Homo sapiens: one gene and its partners. The protein of the gene in region 1 purifies or fractionates together with the protein of each later gene. This does not show direct contact. Each region holds a gene or a part of one and is shown in the gene's direction. Other genes may lie near its edges.

Evidence for each region. The genes of interacting proteins can lie anywhere in the genome.
Region 2: the proteins of COL11A1 (region 1) and P4HA2 purify together in Homo sapiens (co-immunoprecipitation; one large-scale study listed by IntAct). This does not show direct contact.
Region 3: the proteins of COL11A1 (region 1) and ME2 fractionate together in Homo sapiens (co-fractionation; one large-scale study listed by BioGRID). This does not show direct contact.

What each region holds. Positions count from the first base shown.
Region 1 is NC_000001.11:103,000,523-103,004,022, reverse strand, and holds part of COL11A1 (collagen alpha-1(XI) chain isoform A preproprotein), read left to right. Parts: intron 1-754; coding exon 755-808; intron 809-1,231; coding exon 1,232-1,276; intron 1,277-1,541; coding exon 1,542-1,595; intron 1,596-2,053; coding exon 2,054-2,098; intron 2,099-3,500. UniProt on the Homo sapiens protein: May play an important role in fibrillogenesis by controlling lateral growth of collagen II fibrils.
Region 2 is NC_000005.10:132,210,854-132,214,353, reverse strand, and holds part of P4HA2 (prolyl 4-hydroxylase subunit alpha-2 isoform 2 precursor), read left to right. Parts: intron 1-300; coding exon 301-438; intron 439-3,500. UniProt on the Homo sapiens protein: Catalyzes the post-translational formation of 4-hydroxyproline in -Xaa-Pro-Gly- sequences in collagens and other proteins.
Region 3 is NC_000018.10:50,917,118-50,920,617, forward strand, and holds part of ME2 (NAD-dependent malic enzyme, mitochondrial isoform 1 precursor), read left to right. Parts: intron 1-229; coding exon 230-391; intron 392-992; coding exon 993-1,096; intron 1,097-3,338; coding exon 3,339-3,448; intron 3,449-3,500.

The sequences.
Region 1 (3,500 bases):
GGAAACTGATCTGGGAAGGTTTACTTGAAGCTAGCTAACAAAATAACTAAACTGGAAATAGGCCTCCTAATTTTGGTTTTAAATTGCTGCATTCTACCTTGCGCCACATTTTAGATCCTTGTCAAGTAAGTTCAAGCAAATGGGAGAGAAATTAGATTATTTTATTGGCTTTTCTAAAGAAGGAAAAGAAGGTGAGCAGGTGCAGGAGGGGGAAAAAGAAGAGAAGGAGAAATCAAGTGTGAATAATAATAATTTAAGAAACCTCGAAAAATGGTTTCTGTAATCTGCATATATAGTTACACAGATGATCGTTTTCTTTCCTCAGTGAATGCTGTCTTAAGATGAAATTTACCTAAATGTACAATAAATGAGAATCAAGACTCTTCTATTTATGTAGTATATCTGATTGAATAATAATGTTCGATGCTGTCACTGAAATCAAAAAATGACACAAAAGTGTCTTATAGAAAATATTAAACTGTTTCCTATTTTAAAAATTCCCCAAGTGATTCATATGTAATATTATAGAATCAAAGAAACACAGTTTCTGTACTAAAAACTGTTATTTATTCTGGCTTTTGGATCAGTATAAACACTAGATATTTATGTTATGGACATCACTTTCAGTGTGTTAATAAAAGATGTCCAAATATTTTTATTCTAAAAATAACCTTAGGATTTCTTCATTGAAAGAGGCATGTTATTAGGACATTTTTTTTTTTTAATAAAGGCGTGCTTTTTCTTTTTCTCCTAGGGCCCACGAGGTTTGCTGGGTCCAAGGGGAACTCCAGGAGCTCCAGGGCAGCCTGTATGTATTGCTGGAAACATTGAAGATTTTCTAGGGAAAGCTTGTTGCCAACCTTTTAGAGGCCATAAAAGCCCTCAGTAGAGAGCCAAGAGTTTATTGCCTTGTTATGTTTGAAGATCTATTGTTGCTGCCTTTCACTTTAACTCATCATTCCCTCCTTTTCTTCTATCTTCCTTTTGATTATCTATCTTAGTGTTTTCATGATACATCCCCAGCATGCAGAGGAAAATGTTGCTAGATTGTCTCCAATGTGGACATGGAAAAGAAAGTATAGGTCTTGTCTCTTCTTCGTTTCCATTAAATCCTAAAATGATTTTTAGTTGCTTAGGGTAGTGAATATCATGATATTAGATTAGTCTTTTTGATTTTCTGTTTTAGCATCAAAACATATAAACAACCATAAATACTTTTTCTTCATTGCAGGGTATGGCAGGTGTAGATGGCCCCCCAGGACCAAAAGGGAACATGGTATGTAGCAAATAGTGATAAAATAACTCATATTTGAATATAAGCCCTAAGAAACCATTTTTTGTTGTTAAATCTAAAATATAATGATTTATTACATTTTGCTAAGTATATTAGATACAGCTTGCATTAATATTTTGAAATATTTTCCAGAATCTCATGAGGGAAAACTGTTTGAGGGTGGGTAGAGGTATTTTCCAATTGAGAAGAACAAAAATCTATTGTGTAATATAGCCCATTAAAAACTTTTTATATTTTCCTCTGGCAGGGTCCCCAAGGGGAGCCTGGGCCTCCAGGTCAACAAGGGAATCCAGGACCTCAGGTAAGTCTAAGCCACTGCAGCTCCTTTGAAATAATGGGGGGAAGATGCTATCTTTCTATAAGAAAATCGACAGTCTCACAATTTTCTATGTAGTCCTAGCAATATTTAAAATGTGAATGTAGGAAAATACATACTTTTCTTTTTTTAAAAAAATTTGAGCAAACTTGCAGAAGCCCCTCTCTTCCCAGGGAAAAATGACTCATTCAATGTTTAGGGAATGCCAGGACTAATAGCCACCTGCAGGAGGGTTCTGAATAGGATCGCATTATAGTCCCTTTGCAAAAAAGAGCAGCTTGTGTAAAACTCCTCATCGTGTTCTAAAATTCCTTGGGGTGTATGGGAATATATACAGATTCTTATAACTCACTGTGTACTATAGTGAGCTAATAATTTGCTGTTTTAAAAGCATATTACTGTGATTTGATATCTGATATATGAAATAAATTCTTTTAAAATAGGGTCTTCCTGGTCCACAAGGTCCAATTGGTCCTCCTGGTGAAAAAGTAAGTTACTCTGTTGTTCTCGTAAAGCCTGGTGAACATGTTTGTTTTAGCAATCTTAGGCAGGTATAAGGTCTGCCTTCTGTTTTTGTTAAGATATCTAGATAGCTCAGCACATAAGGAATTAATCTGGAGTCGACATGGAAATATAGTGTGGGGAGATTTCATTCATGTGTTCTTAAACTGAGAATGATAAAACTTCAGTTACCATTTAAACAGCTTCCAAATGTGGCATTCTCAGCTATGTTAATTTCAGGAACATAACGGTATGAGTGAATATTTTCTCTTTATTTTAGGTCTCCTTTTCTTTCTCATTATTTTACAAAAAAGTAATTAAGTTTGCTTGTGACAAAAGATTTGTAGGAAGACATGATGAAAGGAAAGTTGTGAAGTTGTCATTGCCATTATATCTCATATATGAATAGCAAATGATGTTCTTGTTAATAACTCAATGTCTGGATCAAAACAAGAATAAATCTATAATTAAACACATGTCTTTTTCCCTGATCTCCACTGTGAGATTCCTTGAGTAATATTTTGTCCCCTGTAGTCATAGCACATTTCTATCTGGCTCTTTCCAACACCTTTTTTCTTTCATTATTTTTGTTGATTTCTACAAACATATTAATTAAAAAAAACTAATAGCTTTATCGAAGTGTAATTTAAATACTATAAATATTCCCTTGTTTTAAGTGTACAAGTGAATTATTTTTACTAAATTTACAGATGTGCTGCAATCTAAGTTTCGGAATACTTATACCACTCCAGAAATAATCCTCGTGTTAATATTCAGTCCATGTTTCCACCCCCTCAGACCTAGCTAACAATTAATTTGCTTTCTGTCTCTGTAGATTTGAGTTTTCTGAATATTTCATGTGAATGAAACTTATGAATAAATTTATGATTTAATCATATGAATGTGTATGTGACCTTTATGTCTGACTTCTTTCATTTTAGGTTCATCCATGCTGTAGCATACATATATTAGTACTTTGCTCCTTATTTTGTTCTCATAGTATTCCATTGATTGGGTATACCAGGTTCTGTTTACTTTTACTTGGCAGTTGATAGAATAGGTGTAGTTTATACTTTTTCGCTATTCTCCATACCGGTGCTGTAGTGAATAATTGCATACAAGTCTTTGTATAGATGTGTTTTCATTCTTTTTGGTATATACTTAGAAGCAGAATTCTTGTGTTATGGTAAACTTATATTCAATATTTTGTGAATTCCACTCTTTTCCATATCGATTGTACCATTTTCCCTTCCAAGTAACCATGTATGAGGATAGTCATTTCTGCACATTCTCACTAATGCTTGTTATTGTCTGTCTTCTTGATTACGATCATTCTCGTTGGTGTGAAATGTTATCTCATTGTGGTTGTAATTTGCATTTTCCTAATCA
Region 2 (3,500 bases), on another chromosome or scaffold:
TGAATGATTTGGAGCCAAGACTTCTGGACTCCTAAATATTAACCAATATGGGGGGCTGCTTCTACTTAGTTCCAAAGAGCAACACAGGCAGTAGGTATGGTGAGGAGTAAGAAAGGAAAAGTCCCCATAGACTGGAGTCATCAGGGACAACTTCCTGGTGGAAGGGGGCAACAGCCTTTGAGGGAGGGGGCGGGGAAATTTCACTAGCCAGAGACCCTCTTTGTGGCTGCCTCTCTGGTCCCAAGTGGAATTCTGCCCCTGGATCAAGGGTAATCTCTTGTTCTGACTCTCATTTGGAAGGTTTTATCGCCAACCTCTCTGTGCAGCGGCAGTTCTTCCCCACTGATGAGGACGAGATAGGAGCTGCCAAAGCCCTGATGAGACTTCAGGACACATACAGGCTGGACCCAGGCACAATTTCCAGAGGGGAACTTCCAGGTAACTCACCACTCCAGGCGTTGCCTGTCCCGCATGTGTCTCTTTAGTGGCGGGACAGGTTGGAGCCACCACCAACTTGTGGCCTTTAACCTCGGGTGCACCTCTGGTGCACCTCTTGGCTCACCAGTTTGTGCTGGACTCCCTCTCCCATGACAGGTTTCTCCCTCAGCCCCTGCCCTGCCACCTCCCTCCATGTATTAGCCAAGGCCCTCTCCTCTTGCATCTCAGAGAAAGCCAAAGTTGCTGCTCAGGAACCCCCTCCACGTCTGTCCCCAGAGCACCACACAGATCTGCATTCAGACCTGCTTCTTGTCTCCCACCCTCCAATGTCTTTTCATCTAAGGCTGATCTGGGCTTACTATCCCCCTGTCTTGAGTCCTCTTAGTTACAGTCTCTGCTCCTATACATTCTGTCTCCACCTCTCTGGGTTCTACCCTTGAGCTCCCATATAGGCTCTATTCTTGCTCATCTTAACACTTGCCTCCCTCGGTATCTGAGAGTCTTTCGAGTCTTTGCTGCTGATTCATCTCTTCTCCCCTCCTGGTTAGGCTACTGGATAGAGTAATCTACACTCTGTCCATTTTCCTGGTTCCCATATACTCCTGAACTCACAGTATCTGGCCTTTTTCCCCACTGTCACTGATGCTGTTCTTACAAGGTCATCAGTGGCCGCTTGGCTGGTAAACCCAGCGAACAAGGTTCACACATAATGTTCTTTAACTTCCCAGCAGCATTTGACAGATAGATTGCCTCATTCTTTGTGATGTTCTCTCCTCCTTTGAATTCTGGCATACTGATATCTGCTTCTCTTTTAGCCTCTCTGGTCATTTTCTCTCAAGTGGCCCCTCTCCCACTGACTTCCCAGTGTTAGTGTTTATAAGAAGATGTTTTGAGGGCTGCTGGAGACAAGTAACCCCAGCGATTCACTGTGTGAGGCTCATGCAGACCCAGCTTATTCCAGCTCCAGAACCTCAGCTGCCCCCTTTAGACTCCATTAGAGAGAGGGCAGTTCAGGGCACCTGCAAGATCTGTTCACTCTGTAGCCTTGAGATTGGTTGCTTGGAGGAGGGAACCATACCCTGGCGTTGACCTCTCACGTTCACTCAGCAAACCCATGAGTGTCCTGAATAGGGTTATGGGGCAGAAAGGAATTACTCCCTAGGACTCCATCCTTACCTCATCTTCTCCCTGAGCACCTTCCCCAGGTGAGCACAGCCATTTCCATCACCTGAGGTGGATGACATCCAGATCTGTGTTTCTTGCCAAGGCTTGTCTCCCGAGCTTCTAACCAGTGTAGACGGATGCCTTTGGGACATCTGTACTTGAATGTCCCATGGACTTCTCGAACTTCATGTGTCCTGAACTGAAATCCTCATCTCCTTGTAAACACTTTACCTTCCCCCTCATCCTTCTATCTCAGCAAAAAGGACCTCCATCCTCTGGCTGCCTAAGCCAGAAGCCTAAGGCCTATGGATTCTACCTCCTTCTCTCATGTCTTCCGTGCTTATCCCCTGACTCCAGCCTCACAGCTACTTTTTTCTCAATTTGATTATCAAAATACCATTCTGACTTGTCTCCTACCTCCAGCTTACTGCTTAAGACCATCCTCCATGTGGTCTTAAGCACACATTTGTTCACATGAGTTCCTGATTACTGTGCTTAATTTCCAAAGCTAAACCCAAACTCCTCCTGTGTGTGGTCTTTGGGGTCCTGCATGACTCCATTTTCCTGGCTTCCTTGCCCATTGTACTCAGCTTTCCCTATCACTCAGCTCTTTTGTCTCAACCCCTCTATAGGAATACCTTTACCCATGTCAGCTAGGCTACTCCATGTCTGATTGCCTATCAGCACTCAGCTCAGCTGTCACTCTCCCAAATGCTCTCCAGGGAGTAGACATTCGAGTTGGCTCTGGGGAGGATGCTGAGTGCCAGGGAGCCATTCTTAGCATTCTTGGCATCTGGGAGACATGTTGATAATAGCTACTGGTCATTAGCATCCTGGGGAGCATAGGAGACATCTTCATATGTCATCTTATTGAATTCTTGCCACAAGCTCTTTAAAATTGATGATATTATCTTTATTTAGAGATAAGGGGACTGAGACTTAGATATGGTAACTTGTCTATAGTCACACAGCTGGTTGGCGCCCTAGTGAGGCCAACACAAACCTAGTTTAGTTCAGCTCCAGAGCCCCAGCTCAGTCAGCTATGTTACTCTGCCCCAGCAATGTAGGTTCCTGGGCCTGCAGAGCCAGAGGAGACCTGTGGAGAAGGAAAAGGGGCTCCAGGAGCCCCCCAGTCCCTGGCCTACCTAGGGACTTCATCTTGTGTTTACTGTCCCCAACTTCCTATTCCTCGTTATTGGTTCCTGAGCCACCGGGGTTAGCAGACCCTGGTCTCTGAAGCATTTAGCCTACTGTGTAGTGGTTTCATTCCAGGCAGAAAGAGCCTTCTCTGAGTTCTTTTGTGTCAGCCATGCCCAGGTTGCTGTTAATGGGGCTGTGGGGAGTCTTCCTTGCTTTCCAGGGAGAGTCACAGCCCCCACTTCCCCTCCATGGTATCTGCTTTCTCATTATTCTCTGAGGAACCACACACATAGTCTTTCCCATCTTGAGCTCACCCTAAATCCTGCATCTCCCTATAGCTGCTTCTTCATATTGGCTTGAAACTATCTTCATGGTCACTTTCCAGCACTCCCTCTACAGCAGATGACCTTTGGTCATAAGACCCACTGAACTGATACTCAGCAAGGTCCCTGCCACTTAACAGCCAAAGCTGGCACTGCAACCTTGGCTCTTGGCCTCCCTTGGTGTCTCTCACACCACTCCCGCTCCCTCTGTTTCTCCTATCTTTAGTTCATTCTCAGGGTTATTCATTGTCTGTTCTTTCTGGGTAGGTGCTCCCTGGAGCTCTGGCCTTAGTCATCTTCTCCATTCTTTCCTCAGAGTTCCTGCAAGCTATTTTCCTCACCCATGGCTTGGTTGCCACCTAAATTTATGTTTTTTATATTCAGCTAATTTTTCCATCCTCTAGACTCATATGGCAAACTGCCCACCAGACATCT
Region 3 (3,500 bases), on another chromosome or scaffold:
CCTAAACCGAAGTCAGAGGGAAATCAAATCTAGTTAATGTCTCATAATACTCAGAAGTCCTAGAATTTTAAGTATGCTTTGTTGGTTTACATTGGAAATTAGCCAAGAAACAATTTTATTTTTAAGAGCAAAGAGTAAATATATATGAAGTGAATCAATCTTTTAAAAAATGCTTTTCTTTAGTGCCCCATTTTTGACAACTTTTAATTTGCATTTTTTTGTGATTAAGGCTGTTGTAGTGACTGATGGAGAGAGAATTCTGGGTCTTGGAGATCTGGGTGTCTATGGAATGGGAATTCCAGTAGGAAAACTTTGTTTGTATACAGCTTGTGCAGGAATACGGCCTGATAGATGCCTGCCAGTGTGTATTGATGTGGGAACTGATAATATCGTGAGTAACATCATTTTCCCCCTTTATCTTCCTCCTGTATTTTTTAAAATGTGTACAATATTCCTTTTTTGAAAATGATAATTTAAGAAGGGAAAGTTTTATGATTAGATTTTTTTTTCTTAAACTCCACTTTTAATATTTATATAAATAATAGTAAATTAAGTCTATTAAAAGTTTCTTGGTCCGGGCATGGTGGCTCATACCTGTAATCCCAGGACATTGGAAGGCCGAGGCAGGCAGATCACCAAAAGTCAGGAGTTCGAGACCAGCCTGGCCAACATGGTGAAACCCAGACTCTACTAAAAATACAAAAAAAATTAGCTGGGCGTGGTGGCACATGCTTGTAATCCCAGCTACAAGGCTGAGGCAAGAGAATTGCTTGAATGCAAAAGACAGAGGTTGCAGTGAGCCGAGATCACACCATTGCACTCCAGCCTGGGTGACAAGAGTGAGACTGTCTCAAAAAAGAAAAAATAAAGTTTCTTGTAGGGCAATACATTTAAAAAATTGTATTAGTAATTTTTTATTTTGCAATTTTTATTGTATGTGTTTAAACTGATTATATAAATTATTTTATTTTTACATTTGGTTTATTTTGTAGGCACTCTTAAAAGACCCATTTTACATGGGCTTGTACCAGAAACGAGATCGCACACAACAGTATGATGACCTGATTGATGAGTTTATGAAAGCTATTACTGACAGGTATTTTTTAAAAGTTTGAGTATATGAAAGCACCTTTAATGGGGTGGGTGGGGTAAGAACCAAAGTTTTGTTTTGTTTTCCTTTATTTCTTTCCTGTGTAGATAAGCAGGAGGCGATTAAATTTTTGAGAACTTTGTTCTGCCTGGCTGTTTCTGCCTGATTAGATGTGCCGATATGAGGTGGTACCCATGGTCTGCCTTGCTTTCTTGAGTTACCTGACATTTTGAGGGAAGTCTGCCCTCACTGCTTCCATCAAACGCTTACTGCTCAGTACCTTTTTCAGCCTTGACCTTCAGGCTCACGCCCACCATTCCACTGAAGCTCTTGTGCAGCTTTTGTATTTTAAGTTCTCTGACCATTGGGTCCTCCCACTTCTCTACCTCTTTGCACCGTCAACTCAGGTTTTCCCACTTCTATGTCCTTGAAACTCTCTCTTCTCTTGACTGCTAAACAGCTTCCTCCTAACTTGGTCTTTCTCCCACCTTTCTCTTTTTTTTTTTTTTTGTCATCTTCACAGGTTCTTGCTGTCTCTTACTAAATGTGGATAACTACCTAGTCCTCTTCTCTTTCAGCCATGTCAACTATGACCTTTATGCATGTTACTACTAAACCCATAAAAACCCATCTGTAGTTCCACTGCTCTTGTGAGGCCTGCATTTCTAATAATCAGAATCTTCCATCTGGGTATTCTGTTATGAGTGCATATTCATATCCCACACTGAACTCCTTTCCTTTCCAAACAACCTATCTTCTGTATTCCCAGCTTCTATTATTGGCAGTAACATTCATCCTGTTGCCAAAACTTTGATCTTAGTGTTATCTTTGACTCTTCTGCCTTCTCCGTCAGTCAGATTTCAGATATTCCTCAAATTCAGTGGGTACTACCACTTAAATGTCTCCTGTTTTCCATTGCCGCAATCTTGCTCTCTCCTTATCTCTCTTCTGGAGTTTTCTAATTCTTCCTCCAGTTTCTCTCCTCTCCAGTTCGTCTCCACCTTAATACCAGATTAATTGTTTTGAAACGTGTGCTTCATTTTGTCATTCTTTTGCTTGAAATCTCTGATTGGTTTCCTATTGCCATAGGATAAAGTCAAACTCTTTTACCTTAATGATCTAACCCTGGCCTACCTTTAAAATTGCTGGCACGTAGAAGATATTTAAACATTAATTCCTTTTCAGAGTCAAAGTCAACAAGTCTAAAGCTGAACTTTACATCTTCTCAGAAATTGCCATCTCTCCTTCTTCCTCTCACTTTCCTATCTTGGACAACCAAATAGTACCTTCTTAGTTACCCCATTACCTTCACATTGTAACAGCTTCTTCCTCATTTCCCAGTTGATCCTTATCAATTTCTATTCATCCTAATAGTTCATAGTTACTCCTTTTGCTTCCTGCATCTTCTGCTTCAGATCTCTTGTCTTCGTATCATAGTAGCCTCCTAGTTGCTTCTGCCACTCCCGTCTCCCCACACCAATATGAGCTACGTATCACTGGCAGGTTTATCCTTCCTAAAGGGAGTCATATGTGAATATTTTCCTTTCTCTGCAGCCTTCACTGTTTCTACATGGGATGCAGAAGAAAGTCCCTCTTCTCTAATTTAGCATTCGAGATCCTCCCTTATTTGGTTCCAACCTGCATTAACCAATTTCTCCCTTATCTCTTAATGTAAACCATGAAATATATAGCCAGACTGTTGAAAATTCAGGGTCACCCTAATAACAGCCTGCTTTTCTTCCTAGCTCTTTACTTTTTGTTCTTTCAGGGCCCACCTCCTTTTCAAGCCTTCCCTTACTACTTGAGCTCACCTAGACGATTAACATCTTCTTTTTCTGAATGTCAGTGAACTCAAATAGCAATTATTTTTCAATTTCTTATTTAATATATACTTTCTTGTGTTGCTGTTTAACTATTAATGTAATGAGAATATACATATCAAATATATATTTTTTGAGGTTCAGAGTCAAAGGAAGTGTCCTCCTGGACACTTGAAAATAGTTTACATAGATTGATAGCCCATGGGTTTATCATTGTGCCACATTCTTTTTAAACACCTCATACTTTTTTTATTGAATAATTTCTACATTTTGGATCTAGTCTTTCACAGGCTCTGAAATTTTTCAGATGGCCTTAATTGAACTAACATAATACATTATTTTTGAATGCTATCATAGGGAATATTAGGTGGAAAGCTGTTTAATAGTGTTATTTTCAACACAACTATTGTGGGTTTTGCTGTTTTTAGATATGGCCGGAACACACTCATTCAGTTCGAAGACTTTGGAAATCATAATGCATTCAGGTTCTTGAGAAAGTACCGAGAAAAATATTGTACTTTCAATGATGATATTCAAGGTAAAGCAAAAAAACTTCAGGGTTTTGATTCCTACTTTTTAAACATTTTTAA